Linked DNA regions of Homo sapiens: region 2 is linked to region 1. The links come from fine-mapping of genetic effects on gene expression. Tissue or cell type: stomach. Region 1 holds a variant in brackets; the other region holds the start of a gene. All regions are shown on one strand. Distances are from middle to middle.

Region 1 (8,103 bases):
GCAGCCCTGGCCTGGGAGGCTTGCGAGCATCCCCACCGTCACTGGTGAAGGGCTCTGGGATAGAGAGTCAGGAAATTGGTTCTTGTTCTGCCTTTGTCACTCTTCTGGAAAAGTCACCTCACTTTCCTGGGTCTTCGTCATAGACCCAGGAAATGAAGACATTGAACGTTATGACTGCCACAGTCCTTGCCAGCTCCGGAGTTCCTTGAATTTTATGATACAGGATGTCTTCCTAGTGCAAGAGGTCCCAGTGTCATGCATGGCCGTGGTCCCATCAAGGGCCTCCTAACTTCCCCCAGCTCTTGTCAGGCCTGCACAGGGCAGGCTTCCAGAAAACAGCCTCCTTTCTGGCTTCTGTCAGCACAGCAGTTGTGAACTTCCTGCCATGTGGCTCATAGCTTCAATGTCTGGGCCAAATGTGGAGAAAGGGCAAGCAGAGAAGGCCTGCAAGGAGGAAGCTGAGGGACTGGCACTGGCTCCCACTTCCTTCTTATCTGTGGGTGAGGCACAGAAAGCCCCCGGCCCTCCCCTGCCAGGGTGCGGTGTGTGGGCCCCTGATCGGCAAGGCCTCCACATCACTACCACCTTACCACCTTGGCCTCCACGTGTTTCAGAGCCGGCTCCCTTCCCATGGCCTTTCCACTCCACCCCACCCCACCCCCAGCTCTGACATCAAAGCAGTGGGCTCTGGAGCTCTGAGGATGTCCCAGGCTGTTCACACAGAGGCCATTCCACATTTTACAGCTCTAATTGGTTTTGTAACTGCAGTGAGTTGATGAGAAACACACCCGCTCACACGTAGAAGACAGGGAGCACTACAAACTTTGCTTATTTTGCAAATGCAATGAAGCAAGACAGCAGTGTCACTGCCAACATCTGACTGATCAAGAGTGTCCATGGCATTTTTCCAGAGAGACAGCTGGGCCTGCGATGGCCTTGCAGGGCCCCAGATGCTCTGTGGGGTGCTCCAGTGTCCCTCCCTCACTTGTTTACCCGTGAATGCGCCACATCCTGCCTGGGGCTGGTCAGGTGAGGCTGGAGGACTTCATGGCGGCAGGCTCAGCCTGATAATCCCAGGCCAGCGGGTGGTGCTAGGGTCAGGCTGCACATGGACAGGAGGATGAGAGGGCATGGGCAGTCACCGCAGATGGGGCCAGCTTGGGCCTGGCACACTGCAGGTGTTCAGTTGAGACTGGTTAAAAAGTCCTCTTGCTAGAGCTCCTGACTCTTCTTGGTGCTAACAGGCACCTCCGGCTTGTCCTGTCCATAACCCACGCTTGTTTTCTGCGCCAGCCCACCCTAACCTCCTCCATCTTTCCATTTCAGTGAATGGCACCACCCCCTACCAGAGCTGAGAGAAAAGCCTACCAGCTCCCCATCTCTGGGGACATCAGAACAGTGGCGTCCATGCTATCAGCACCTCCTCCTGCAGCCGCCAAAGAGTCTCCTCATTTTCCCTTTCGTCCCTGCAGTCTGTTCTCCAAAAACAGCAGGAGCAAGCTTTCACAAATGGGAGTCAGGTTATGCAGCTTTCCTGCCTAAAATCCTCGGCTGGCTTCCCATGGCTCTTGAATAAAATCTCAGCTCCTCGCCACAGTCTAAAGGCCCTGACTTCCTACCTAACTTCTTTCATTTTTGCCGTGAGTCCGTTTGATCCAGCCTGTGGGACTGCTGTCTGTCCTCAAGGGCATGAACACGGTGCTGCTGAAGGACTTTTGCATGTACTCTTTGTCTGCCTAGAATGCTCTGCCCTCCGTGTTTTCAAGACCCGCCTGTCCTCCTCCCTTCCTCGGAGGAGTCCCTTACCACCCAATGGGAGGGCATCACTCCATCTCATCCGTGCTGCCAAATACTTCCCATTCTACTATTTGCAACCATTACCATCCAACATTTAGATAACCATTTTTATAGTTTTTGTTGTTGATTTGTTTATAATTAACCTCCCCTACAAGAATGAAAGCTTCTAGGTTGTCTTGTTGGCCACAGTGCCTAGAACAATGCCTGGCACCCATCAGTGCTTAACACGTGTTGACTGAATGGAGCTGGGCCTGTTCCACTTTCATAAGTCACCCCAGTAGGAATTCCAACCATGTGGAGAGTAATGACTCCATCCCAGGGTTCACAGAGACCATGGCGGGTTGAAGTGGGTCACTTCGGACTTCAGCAGAAACTCGACAGCTCCCTGTGAGCATGCCTGTGGCCACACTGGTGAGGCTCCACCCTCACTATGGACCAGCAGCACATGAGGGGCCAGCCGAGGTCACCAGGCCCTCCCTCCTCTCCTGCCAGCTGAGCCTCCCTGCATGTGGGTGGGACCATGAGGGATGTTTGCGAGTAGAGAAAAGGAAGAGGCAAGATGAAGACTAGCTCAGAAATGTGACTGTTTTCTTTTTGTTTACCTCTATTTTCTGATAATTATATAGTGATCATGTATGTCTTTCATAATTAAAAAATCATTGTAAAAAATTATTCTAGTAGATTAATAGTATCAGAAGAGACAGAGAGCTAGAAATAACAATTTACCTTTAAAATATCTTGAAAATGGACTGCAACCATGTGCAATGATCCAACCCTCTAGCTCAGGAGTCGGCCGCCCACAGCCCACCACCTGTTTTGTAAATAAAATTGTATTGGAACACAGCCATGCTCATCCTATAGATGCCTTCTAACTCTATCACGTTAGAGTTGACTTGTTGCGACAAAGACCCCGAGGCCTGCAACAGCCTGAAATGTAGACCACCTGGCTCTTTGCAGGAAAAGCTTGCTGGCTCCTGCCCTAGAGAGTACCCTGCTCTCCGCGTTTACCGGGGTGCGGGGGAGGTCCCTCCACAATGCCAGCACAGGCAGCCTGCAGCTCCTGCTGTGTCCTCTGCCCGTTTGGTGTATCTGTGTGTCTCTCTGCTGAAGGTCAGAAACTAGATTCATCTTTATATTTTTATAAGGCCTGGCACATTTTTTACCTTAAATGAGTCCATATTATGAAAATATTTCTGTTCTGCTTGAGTAAGGAAGTCTCAGCTGATGTCCCACCCTCCAACAGTCATGCGTGGCCACAGAGTTGGGGATCCTCCCGCTGAGTGCTGCACAGAGACCCCCATAGCTGCCTCTTTTGCAACTCCTCACTGTCTGGTGGCAGGGGCACCCTGTCTCTGAAAGCTCTTGGCCACACGGGACGGCTGGAGGTTGCCCCTCCACAGCACCCCTCCCTGACCCTGCTCAAGACTGCCCTGGAAAGGCCTCTTCAGAGCCAGGTAGCACCCCCCAGGAACAGGAGACAGTAAATACCCACCAGTCAGGATAAGCCAGGGTAGGGGTGGGCAGTCTGGATTAGGATTTGCATTTTTAAAGAAATTTCATTTTGTTCCTTTCACACAAAAGCACCTGGCCTTATGCTTATGAAACATTGCTGAGAAAGCACCATGCTG[A/G]GCATGAAATGAAAAGCATAAATTCATTTGTAATTTGCAGCCAGCATCAATGGCACAAAACAGGCAGCCTGGTCCAGTGTGTTTAATTGGCCCCCTGTCAGATGTGTATATCATGAAGTAGCTTTTAACACTCTCTTTGTATGTAACATAAGGGCAAATAACAGCAGAGCGTAGCTTCCTGATAAACCAAAGGATCACAATTCCAGGCTAGCAGAATTTAATTAGGGAGGATATGAATGCAGCAATAGACCCAATAATTCATCTACTATGAGAAGGTGATGTGTGTCAAAGCTGGCCTCCGGAAGATACGAGTGTGTGTGTGCGCACGCACACGAATGATATGTCTGTGTTCGTGTGTGTGTGTGTGTGCACATGTGCCTGCGCCTGTGTGTGTGTATGCGTGTGGGGGGGGGTGGGGGGGGAGTGAGAGAGTCCAGCATTTTTCGACAAGGGAAGGAACTAACTGAGGTTGCCTGTGAACATCTGTCATCTTTACTCTTCACACTAGAGAAATGGGCATTTGACTTAAGACTGGCTGTTCCTCTTGAGCTGGGTGTGAAAGGGACAGAGCCTTCCTTTTCTTAGCAAAAGGTAGTAGGTTCACATTAAAATCATTTCCCAGAGAGCTAATGGTCCTCTCAGGTTAACGACTCAAGGCAAATTAACTCGTCTGGTCACTACTCCGTAGGGGACACAGGGTAGGGGATGTCTCATCTCTAGAGCTTAATTAAAGAACTGCAGGTGTCCTGGTCAGCTGGTGGTCACGTAGGCTTGACTAATGGTAATATTTTGTTCATTAAACTTCTGGAAGGAGACATAAGCACGATCCCTCACAATCCCTCAATCCCAAAATAAGCAGACCAGCGTTTACCATGTTCTCCACAAGTCTGATTCTTGGGGAGCTGCCAACTCTGGGCAAAAGCTCAACTTTGCTGGCTGGAGGTGCACAGCATGGCTTAGTAACAGAGCAGACGTCTGCCTGTCTGCCCTGCAGGACTCTTGGGGGTCTCTGCCCACTGCGCTCTCAGTGTCACAGGAGCGGGCAGTGCAGTGAGATGGGCCTCCCCATTCCACTCTTTTGGGAAAAGGCTTACCCCAGGCCTTGGGTAAGAAGCACGAACAATAAGATCTGCATTCGCTCTGTTTCTGTTCCTCTTCCTCTTTCCACCCCTCAGATTTGCAGGTCTCCAGGATGATTCTCAGACTGAGCTCCTAGGAAGCAGTTTAGACACAGGTTCCATCCGGACTCAGGATGGCTGAGCTGGGCCTGCGATCTGCGCTTTCATAGGGCGATGCTCAAGCGGGTGATCCACAGATCACACTGTGATGGCACTGCCTGATGCACAGACAGTCCTAAGAGCCCTCTGGGGTCTCCCCACGCGCCCATGTGCCGCCTGTCCTAGGGCACAACGGCCACCTGGCTGCCGGGCCTGGTAAAGCCTCCTCCGAGCTCCCGCACCATGTTCATGCTTCTCCTCATCACATTTCCCATCCGATATGCCTACTGCCTGACAGATCCCGTGACATTGCTTTAGAAACATTTTCTTTTAATTTTCACAACATATCCCACAAGATAGTTTTATCCTGATTTTCCCAAAGGGGGAACTATGACTCCAAGGTAAAGCAGCATGCCCAAGTTCAAACAGCTGCCAAGTGCAAGAGCTGAGTCTCAAGCTGTGACCCCCAAGATCCCTGCCCTCCACAGGGCAAAGTGGGAGCCTTCTGCATGTCTCTCCAGGCTCTGGGTCTGGCGGGACTTGTGCCTCCAGACTCAGCTCCCGCTGGGTGCACCAGCCTCCTGCACTTCCCCACTCTTATGAGCCATATTATGTCCCCCAGTAATTTATAGGCTGGAGTCCTAACCCCACATACCTCATAATTGGACTGTACTTGGAGACAGAGTCTTTAAGGAAATTCAGTTAAAATGAGGTAATGAGGGTGGGCCCTAGACTAATATGACCAGTGTCCTTATAAGAAGAGGAGATGAGGACACGGACATGCACAGAGGGAAGACCATGTGAGGACTCAGCAAGATGGCAGAGTGCTGTCTCCCTACAAGCCAAGGAGAGAGGCCTCAGGAGGAACCAAGCCTGCCAACACCTTGATTTTGGACTTCCAACCTCTAGAACTGTAAGATGGTACATCTCTATGGTTTACCACCCCCCAGTCTGCAGTGCTTTGTTACACAGCCAGAGCAGACTGAGACACTCCTCCTCACATGTGCTGCACCTTTGCCCACACCTGCCATCCCCATGCCTCAGTGCTCTTTCCACTCTCTTTGCTTGGTTAGCCTCTGCCAGTCTTTTGAGATTCATGAGGCATCTATTCTCCTCCAATCCTCTGGTTTGGGATTCCTTCTCTGAACACCTGTATGTAGCCCCCTGTGCATGGCGGTATCTTAGCAGACAGCAAATCATGATTGGTTGTGTGTCTGTCTCCCCAACTGGACCCCATGCTCTAGGAGAGCAGGGACTCTGTCATATACCACTGTGTGCCCAGCAGCTGGTGCAGGCCCTGGCGCATGATGCCAGACTGACATCAGTGGCACTATATGCTGAGTGCTGGGTCCTCACCGGAGCATATGCTGGAACCCAAGTTTCTCTGGGCTCATGAAGAGAAGTCCATCACATCTCTTGGCAGGATCCATAGGTGGCCACATTTCCTCCTTTCTTCCTCTTCATTTGGCCTGAGTCAGCTTGTCCTCCTGCCCCTCCGTGGAGCATGAGGAGCCTGTAGCCACCAGGGGAGCCTGCCCCACCCTGACCCGTCACAATTGCCAAGCCTCTCTTTGCCTTGAGTCCCTTGATGCCTTTTTGCCCCCTGGCACCTCCTCAGTGCTCCTGGATCTTGGAGGCCGGTGGGACCTTACAGAGGCTGGGCTTACTTGTCCTAAGGAATCTGGAGTGGCAGGTGTACTAACGCAAGGAACCAGGCCTCCACCCCACCACTGCCTCCCACCAGTTCAACCCTGCTTCCCTGCTTCTGCAGCAGCCCAATTCTCTGCTTTATGAATGGAGCAGATCCCTCCAAGGTGAAACCATGGCTAAAACAGATCATTAAAACAGAAGATGTTTGGATTGAAAGTATATTACATTATATGCATTTTTTTTTGCAGCAGCAGCAGCAGCATTTTGCTGCTAATTTTTTGCATATGCTAATTTTACAATGAATTTCATTCATTCCCAGAGTCCACATCAGCTTGTGTGTGCTTGTGGGCATATGGGGGTCTGGTTCACCCTTGATTCAAGTGTGGACATCTACCAGCCTGTGAGGGTAGCTTCCCTGAGCTGGCACTCCCTCGCCTCTAAAATGGGGATAATGTCTACACTGCAGGGCTGTTTTGAGGAGTGGAGATTTTGTGATAGTTGTTCAAGTGATAGCTCTCACTGACAGCTGCTGATTATTAACAGCAGTACTCTTTCTTTTCAACTTAATTTTCAAAGCTTGTGTCAAATATCTACTTCTTTAGTATTCTCTTTACTGTCTATCACATAATTAAGTTATTGTTTCTGTTTTCATTAACTAAATAAGAAAGGGAGAAAAGTGTCATGTTTGGGAATAAAACAAAAATAGCTTTGGGAAATCAGAAAGGAGGTAAATAAGTGGGAGAGAAAGCATACCACTGATGGCTATGTCTCTCTGTGCATCTGACAATGCAGGAGCACCTTTGTTATCCCATTATCCCTACTGGGTCCCAGCACTAGCTGCCTCCCCGCAGCACTGTACCTGTTAAAGGCAAGCTGGCACCATGCTCGGCCTTGTGCTTCCCTCTTGCCTGGAATACACGTGCCATTATTGTTTGTTGTTCTGCCTTGAACTCACTGCTGCAATCCACCCTGTGCACAGTTATGAATTTAACAATCAAAAGGAGAGCATGTGAGGAGCTGTCTTCTGCTGGGGGGACACATCTGAATAAAGAGACATATAAAAGTCATTGCCTTGCCCTAAAGGAGCTGACGGTCAGGTTGATAATTCAGGTCTTAGACTTTTTTTTTATTTTTTACTTTTGTAATTTAAGAATATTCAGTATGAGCAGTGCCAGCGGAATGGTTTGGAGACTTTCAGTGCTTCCTGAGTTCAGAGGAAGGAAACACAGCCTGGGGTTGGAGGTGGGCCCCAGAAGGCAGGAAATCCATCAGGAGACAGGCAGGATGATGTACACTCCAGGGGCAGATGGGTCATCCTGGGGGGTGTCACCTGGCTGCCTTCTCCAGGTGCTCGCCTGTTCCTCCCTGCCTAGCCCCCCCAGAGAAGAGCTGGTTTGCCCCCATCCAGGAGTGAGGACCTGGCCCCTACCATGGAGGCTGCTCTGTCTGTGCTCCCTCCCCCGGCAGAGCAAGCAAAGCCCCTTTCCCAGGGACGGAGCAGCTTCGGGGTGCACTCAGATCCCACCCGATCCTGACCCCATGGCAGATGGGACTTCACCATCCCAGGGCAGAGAGGGCCTCATCACTCACAGGACCTCACCCCAAAGCCCCGTCCACCAAGACGCAGATTTATTCAGATGGTTTAGGCAGGCAAGGTGGCTTGTGCGGGAGTTCTTCCTCAGGCCCTCTTTAATAACAACAGCAATAATAAAGTCAATCCTGCATGATTATTATGGAATGCTGGTGCAATTGAGCAGATAAAGTACTTCCAAATTAATGTGCTCCTCATATAACACACAGTATACAGTATG
Region 2 (8,103 bases), 820 kb after region 1:
AAGACCAGCCCGAGCAACATAGTGAGACCTCAACTACCTGTAGTCCTGGCTACTTGGGAGGCTGAGGTGGGAGGATCACTTGAGCCCAGGAGTTTGAAGGTACAGTGAGCTACAACTGTGCCACTGCACTCCAGCCTGGGCAATGGAGCGAGACCCTGTGTCTAAAAAATAAAAACAAAAAAACTCAGACCCATATGAAAATCTGCACATGGATGTTTACAGCAGCTTTATCCATAATTGCCAAAACTTGGAAGCAACCAATATGTCCCTCAGTAGATGAGTGGACAAATAAACTGTGGTCCATCCAATGGAATACTAACCAGTACTAAAAGAAATTAGCTGTCGGCCGGGCGCCGTGGCTCACGCCTGTAATCCCAGCACTTTGGGAGGCCGAGGCGGGCGGATCATGAGGTCAGTAGTTCGAGACCAGCCTGACCAACATGGTGAAACCCCGTCTCTACTAAAAAAAGATACAAAAATTAGCTGGGCGTGGTGGTGCATGCCTGTAATCCCAGCTACTCAGGAGGCTGAGGCAGGAGAATCGCTTGAACCTGGGAGGCAGAGGTTGCAGTGAGCCGAGATTGCGCCATTGCACTACAGCCTGGGGGACAGAGCAAGACTCTGTCTAAAAAAAAAAGAAATTAGCTGTCAAGCTATGAAAAAACATGGAGGAATCTAAACGCATATCACTAAGTGAAGAACGCCAATGTGAAGAGGCTACAGATGCATGAGTCCAACTACAGGACATTCTGGAAAGCATGAAACTATGGAGACACTGAAAACATCAGTGGTGGCCAGGAGTTAGGGGAGATGGATGGATGGGCAGGGCACAGAGGATTTCAAGGCAGTGACACTACTGTATGTGATGCTACGATGGTAGACATGTGTCATCATACATTTGCCTAACTCATGAACACACCAAGCCAAGAGTGAGCCCTCATGGAAACTGTACTCCAAGTGATGATGGCATGTCAACAGAGGTTCATCAGTTGTGACGAAAATAGCACTCTGGTGGGGGAAGTTGTGAGGTAATATGGGAAATCTCTGCACATTCTGCTCTTTTGCTGAGAACCTAAAACTGCTCTAAAAAGCAACTCCTATTAAAAGACAACAACCAAATAACTATAGTTTCATCTGAAAGAAGGTGCTACATTCAGGAAACAAGAATAGGGTGCTTTAAGGAAGCGATGGCTCAGGATGATATATTAAGTATCAAAGTTGAAATAAAAAATCCTACAGTCAGGAAAAAACCATAAAGGAATGATGGGCAGGGAATGACCAGAGAAGCAGGAACACACAGAGGCTTCCAGGGAGAGGTGGTCCCTGACCTGCAGGCTGCCCTCTCCCCAGAGGAGTGACCAGAGGGGGCAAACCACAGAGAGGGAGGTCAACAGCCAACAGCAGCCCGACAAGGAAAAGAGTTTACACTCTCATGAACTGAACTAAACGTGCCCAACGAGCGCAGCCCTAAGCCCACCCATGCCACATAGCTGGGAGGGGTGGCATCTGGACACCTGTCACCCACCACCCCTGGGGAGACACTCAAGGAGGTAACCTTGTTGTGTCCCTCTTCTGACGGCTGAGGAGAAACAGGGCCATGAACTCCAACAGAACTGAAGCTAGAGGGTTTCAAGTATTATTACACAGATGCTGAATCCCACGGAGGATGGTCCCGCCCCACCTGACCCCTCAGAGTGGAGCTCCCTGGCCTGTGACGTTGTGTCACATCTCAGAAGGGAGACCAGAGTTGGATGACGTCACCCTTCAGTGCTGAGCTGGGGAAGAACAGAGCCGCCTCCAATGCCCTCAGCACTCAGAACAGTGGCGGACACACCAGACACCCAGCACAAGTGAAGAAAATTAACTCCTCCTGCAGACCTCGAGGACAGAGACCCCCACAATGAGAGCAAATAGAAAGACACAGAGGAGCCACCAAGCATATGCTTGGTAAGGGGAGCTGGGGCCCAGTAGGTCTGCAGACAAGCTCCAGACCAGGCAAGAAAGGATGAAGAGGAAAAAGCCCTGAGACACAGAAAGGACAGACAGCTGACCCTTGAATGATGCAAGGGCTAGGGACACTGGCCCCCACACAGTTGAAAACCCACCTTTAAGCTTTGACTCCCCAAAAGCTTAACTACTAACAGACTCCTGTTGACTGGAAGCCTTATGCATAACATACGCAGTCAAGTGGCACATATTTTTTATGTTTTATGCTATTATATACTGTATTACAATACGGTAAGCTACAAATCCCAGGAAGAAAATCCTAAGGAAGAGGAAATGTAGTTCCACTTCACTGAATGGAAATGGATCAACATAAACATCTTCATCCTCATGGTCTCCATGTTGAGTAGGCTGAGGAGGAGGAAGGAGAAGAAGGGTTGGTCTTGCCGTCTCAGGGTGGCAGAGGTGAAGGAAAATCCACGCATAAGTGACCTATGTAGTGCAAAGTCAGCTGTACTTTACACCACAAAACACTTATTAAGAATAGGAATTCAATTGAACTAGGACTCAAAGGGAAAAGGACAAGAGAGGACTATAGAAATATGGAAGGGAATTTGGGGACCAAAATCAACATCATTGTAAGGCTAACATGTGAACAGCAAAGTACTAACATAGAAGGCTCCAGAGAATCAAAGAATGTAGTTCTTAAGATGAAGAAATTAAAGCAGCTAGACAGAATGTAATGAATACATAAGACAGACTATGATGACTATATCTCTGAACTGGGACATGAAGATTTAAGCCTATTGAGCTAGGGTGGGCACACTTTTTCTGTAAAGGGCCAGTGAATAACTTAGGCTTGAGGGCCACACTCGTGCCACAACTCTACCACTCCAGACAAAAGCAGCCCCAGGCCGGGCACAGTGGCTCACACCTGTAATCCCTGCACTTTGGGAGGCCGAGGCGGGTGGATCACCTGAGGTCAGGAGTGTGAAAACAGCCTGGCCAATATGGTGAAACCCTGTCTCTACTAAAAATACAAAAATTAGCCGGGCATGGTGGCAGGCACCTGTAGTCCCAGCTATTTGGGAGGCTGAGGCGGGAGAATCTCTTGAACCCTGGAGGCAGAGGTTGCAATGAGCCAAGATTGTGCCATTGCACTCCAGCCTGGGCAACAAGAGCAAAACTCCGTCTCAAAAAAAAAAAAAAAAAAGAAGCCCCAGACCACCTGGAATCCAACGGGTGGGGTTCCCAGAGAATTTTATTATAAACACCGGCAATGGGCTGGGTCTGACCTCAGGGCCGTATTTCACCAACTCTGGTTCTAGATTTAAAGAGCCCACTAAGTGCCCAGAGATGTGATATGGAAAAAGCCCAAACTAAGACACATCAGCATGACATTTCACGACATCAAGAATAAAGAAAAGCTTCTGAGAAAAACACAGTTCACATACAAATAAGAACGGCACCAGACTTCTCAGAAAAGCTGGCAGCGAGAAAACAAAGTTGTGATGTGAACATTGTCGGTGACAATTTCCAAGCTAGATTTTTACACCCAGCCAGGATATCAGGTAAAGCCACTAGCAGAGACACAATGAGTCCAAAAATTCACCCCACGTAGCTCAGGAAGTCATTAAAAAGGTGTCCATCCCCTGAAACCAAAACACAGGAGTAAGCTGAAGAGAACAAGAACCGGGTCCGCCATAGCAGGGACAGCAGGCAGGCGGCCGCGAACCAGATCCACTCCACCGGGCGGAGGTTTCAGGGATCCAGGTCCCTGGAAGCTGGGCAAGGGAAACCCAAGGCTGTAAGCAGTCAAGGCCCTGACCCGGCATGAACATCACTGACAGTCGTGATGTCAGCACAGATGACTGAGCCAAATGCCAATGTGACCAGCTATGGGGAGACACAGGGAAACACAAGGTAAACAGAACTCGGGAGTGTCACCACAAGCTGTCACTCAGAAACACAGCTCTGCCACCAGGCGGGGCCCCTGAACCCCTTGTCCCTGCGGAGGGAGAAGGGTCACCAGATGGCCCACTTGGGAGGTGCCCACCTAGAGACGCCTCTGCTCTGATATGGTGGGCTGGCCCCCAGGCCTCCCCTGGATGAGTCGCTGACCCATCCCTGGGTGTTGAGCCAAGCCCTCCTCTGGGTGCCCTCCCCCGGGTGCTGGGCCCTGGGTGAGCTTCCCCTGGGTGTCCATCCCAAGTGGAATCTCCTGGGTGCCTGACCCTGAGTGCCAGTCGCTGGCCCACCCACCCTTGAGCTTCCACCCCATCCCGGCCCTCCCCGGGTGCCCACCCCCCACGCCCTCTGCAGGCCCCGGGCGCCCGCCCTGTCCCTGGGTGCCGGTCCCTGGCCACTCCCCTGGGTGCCCGCCCCCGAGCGCCCTCCCAGCACGCGCTCACCCGTACAAGATGACGTCATAGAGCGTCCGGCCCTGCACGTTCAGGAAGTGGGCGTAGCCCGCGCGCGCAGCAGGCGGGGCCCCCGCGGCCGCAGGACTCGGAAGCGGCAGTTCATTGGTCAGCAGCCCTAGCAGGAAGGGCGCCGCGTCGGGGCCACGCACGCGCAGCAGGGTGCGCCCGTCCAGCCGGAAGCAGGCCCAGGCCGCTCCGGCCGTTGGGTCGCCACCAGGACTGCAGGAGCTGTGGGCCAGGCGGCACCTTGGGGCCGCGCGCAGCCGCCAGCGCCAGACCGGGCCGCCGCGCCCCGGAGTGGCGCCTCGAAGCAGCGCCGCGGTCGCCATCTTGGACAAGAGTGGGGCAGCGGGAAGGGCCCAAGGAAGCGGGAGGGGCGGGTGCCACAGCGGCCCCTGGCGGTGGCCGCCGGAGGGAGGCGGGAAGGGGCGGGCGCAGAGTGCGTGCGTGAGGGGTGAACGGAACGTGCGTGCCTGAGGGGCGGAGCAGCGCCGGTTGAGGCCGACTGAGAGTGCGTGCGTGAGGAGCAGGGCCTCCCGAGCTGGAAGGGGCGGGCGGGGCGAGCGTGCCTGCTGGGTGGGTGGGGCATGCGTGTGGGGCGGAGCATCGTGCGCGGGGTGTGTTTCGGGGCGGGGACTCGGCCTATCCGTCAGCACGCAGGCTCCACCCTCGGTAGGTAACGAGGTTTCTGCCGGCCTCTTAAGCGCCATCCCATGTCCCATTCGGTGGCCTTCCTCGTTTTCACCCACCCATGTCGGGCACCGTCACTCATCTCGAGAACCTCTTCATCCTCCCAACCTGAAACTCCCTGTTAAACACCCACTCCCGAGGCCCTGGAGCTCCCATTGTACCTTCTGGCTCCATGAGCGTGCCTCCTCTAGGGACCTCACAGGAGCAGAATCCTACGGGATTTGTCGTTTGCGACGGCTTATTTCACTCAGCATAGTATTCTCAAAGTCCATCCACGGTCTAGCATGTATCAGCATTTTATTTTTATTTTTATTTTTATTTTTATTTTTTGTAAAGACAGGGTCTTGGTTATGTTGCCCAGGCTGGCCTCAAGCTCCAGAGCTCAGGCAGTCCTCCCTCCTCAGCCTCTTGAGTAGCTGGAACTACAGGCGCTAGCCACCACACCAGCTAATTTTTGTATTTTTTTTGTAGAAATGGTCTCCCCATGTTGTCCAGGCTGGTCTCAAACTCCTAGGCTCAAGCGATTCACCGGCTTTGGCCTCCCAAAGTGCTGGGATTACAGGCGTGAGCTACCGCACCCGGCCGCTTCCTCTTTCCTACCAGTTCGCCAGCGTCCACGTGTGGCTGTTGTGTCATTTTTTTCATTTGCTGGACCATTGGGACTTCAGCTGCAGGTGGCAGGAGGCTCCATCCCCAAGTGTCTCCACGGATAAGGACAGGCACCATCCAGCCCACAACCCCTCCGCACCCCTAATCAGTGTGACATGATGAGACACAATCACAGCTTCAAATCACATCCTTGGTAACTTCTGCTTTTTTCAGGCCAGGGTCACCCCCATCATGTGTCTATAGTCCTCTTCAGTGCAGGATTCCAAGCTCCCCTGGAGCCCAGCCTGTCCTCCCACAGGACGTCCTTCCAGACCACAGGACGTCCTTCCAATAACTCTCGTCCTCTCTTCACAGCTGAACTCACAGAGGACAATTTAGGCAGGAACCACACACTGCTATGACATATCCACCCCACCGTGCTTTCTCGAGGAGTGATGTCCCATACCCCCTGCTGAGCAGCCCTGTACAGTGGCCACTTTCCCTGGTAGTAGGTGACACATCTACAAGGTGGCCCCAGCAGCCTTCAGCCCTAGAGTCTGACTGCCCTGGTCCAAGCCATCCCTGCCTTGCTGGCCTCCTGGGGCCCATGCACCCTGTTGACATTCCCCTCTCCACTGCCCTCCACTCAAAGCACCAAAGAAGACTTACTCAATGTGTCCTTATGGTGCAGAGTCCCAGCAAGCAGAGGTCTTTGTATCTGTTGAATAAAAAAATTCCTCATGATGCGTAGTAACATCAGTGAGGAAGACTGCACCAAGGCGCATCATGTGGTGTGGGGCCCTGCCTGGCGGCCTTGGGGGAGATGGAGCTCAACCCCAACACAGCAGGGCAGAGGGTGGAGAAGCCGAGGAGCAGCGTGGGGTCTGTGGGTGGGAATGACTAAGGAGACATCAGGGCTGAGGGGTCTGGCTAAACCCACCTCACAGGGTCCTTGCTCTAGGCAGGCAGGGTGATCAGACGTCACCAGGTGATGGTGGAGGATGAGGGACCTGGTTGGATGTCATCGAGGGTGAGATATCCAGGGTGTGGGGTTCTGGCTAAACTGACTCAGTAGGGCTCTTACTAAAACTGGATTTTCCAAGCAAGTGCACAGATGGGCCTAGGAGAAAGTTCCAGATCCCAGCCGGAGTTTGGCCAAGCAGAAAGTCTCTGCCATAGCTCCCTGCCGTGTCCTGAGGGCCTGGGCCAGCAGCCGGCATGCCTTAGGGGCTCAGGTGACATTGGGCAGTCAGCGAATTCCCGCAGGCCCTGGATGTGGCCATGGAGGCCCTGCCGTTAGCCCACTCTCTTCACTGCAGCTTCCTCATCCCTGGAGCTCCCGCTTGCCCTTCTGGACCCTCCTCACAGCATCCCCACCTGCCCCAAGCCCTGTGAGGCCCCGGACCCTGCCTACCCAACCAGGCGAGGCTCCGGGCATGGTGAGGAGCCTGGAGCAAATCAGCTGGGTCCCCCAAGGTCCCTGGGCCTCAGTCCCCCGCCAGACGCCAGCTTCCTGACTGAGATAGGCCAGGCCTAGAATGCGCTCCCTAGCCACTGGCTGCAGCCGCCACCCCTTCCTCTGCCAGAGCCTGGCGTTCCTGAGGGTGACCCGGTACCCCCCGGGCAGCCCCATGCGGACAGAGCGGAAGGCAGGCAGGATGAAACCCGGGGCAGGGAGTGGCGCAGACAACACCCACGGGCGGGGGTCGAGTTCCTCTGGGCTCACGTCAGCCTGGTCCTCAGCCAGAGGAGGAATTTGCTTCCACCCCTGCACAGGCAGCAGGAAAGGCGTGCGGCAACCTGGTGCCCCGGGCCGGGCCCACTGGCTCCGAATCTGTCCTGCCTAGGCCCCCCCACCCCAAAGAAGCCACCACCAACACCAGGGGCCACTTCAGTTCGAATGGACTCAAAGGAAACAGAGCTTTCAGCTCCAGAGTCCTGGGGGCCACATTCCAGTGCCTGAGCCATGTGAGGCCGTAACTCCAGGCCACCTCCAAGAAGCCTTCCTGGACTCTACACCAGCCACCCTGGCTGCTGTTCTCCTTATCAGCAGGCAGGGGACTGGGGCCTGGCACCTGGGGGAGGAAACCCCGCCCCTGTCCTGGCTTCAGGGACCAGGCTGAAGCAGGGGCCAGGGGAGTGAGAACTGGAAAATGCCTGGGCGTAGGGGTCGCAGCCCCTGCTTCCCAGGTACTGTGGGGGGGTTGGGGGAAGGTGGTTTCCTGTTATTCTCGCCTCAGGGCTTCCTCCCTTCCTAGAGGAAGGAGAGTGCCACTGCCCTATTCTGAGGGAGTCTCTGAGCAGCTGGCCCCTCACCCCACTATGCACTCCCATGAGCAGCCGAGAGTTTTGGCTGAGGTTGTGGAAACGGATGGAGGTGAGACATGGAGTCCCATCCCGCCAGCCTGCTCCAGCACCGCCTGCTCTGGGTGTGTCCTGCTGTGTACAGGGCTGGGCC

What was found. PIP is the estimated chance that this variant, and not a neighbour inherited with it, causes the effect.
Region 2: IBA57 starts here. The variant in region 1 is fine-mapped to the expression of IBA57 in stomach (GTEx, PIP 0.99).

What each region holds. Positions count from the first base shown.
Region 1 is chr1:228,982,961-228,991,063 of GRCh38, reverse strand. No RefSeq gene overlaps it. Among named protein-coding and RNA genes, the nearest start is that of LINC02815, 170 kb to the left of the region's middle. RefSeq lists an enhancer at 755-1,505. The variant A/G (reference allele first, on the strand shown) is at 3,426.
Region 2 is chr1:228,162,410-228,170,512 of GRCh38, reverse strand. IBA57 (iron-sulfur cluster assembly factor IBA57) reads right to left here and starts at 4,709. Exons shown (of 3, transcript NM_001010867.4): 1 at 4,356-4,709. The coding sequence starts at 4,696. It overlaps IBA57-DT (IBA57 divergent transcript), which reads left to right and starts at 5,001. Exons shown (of 2, transcript NR_103540.1): 1 at 5,001-5,039; 2 at 6,021-6,427. It overlaps LOC124904534 (a long non-coding RNA gene), which reads right to left. Exons shown (of 2, transcript XR_007066913.1): 1 at 7,060-8,103; 2 at 5,331-6,363. RefSeq lists a silencer at 4,078-5,117 and an enhancer at 4,222-5,124.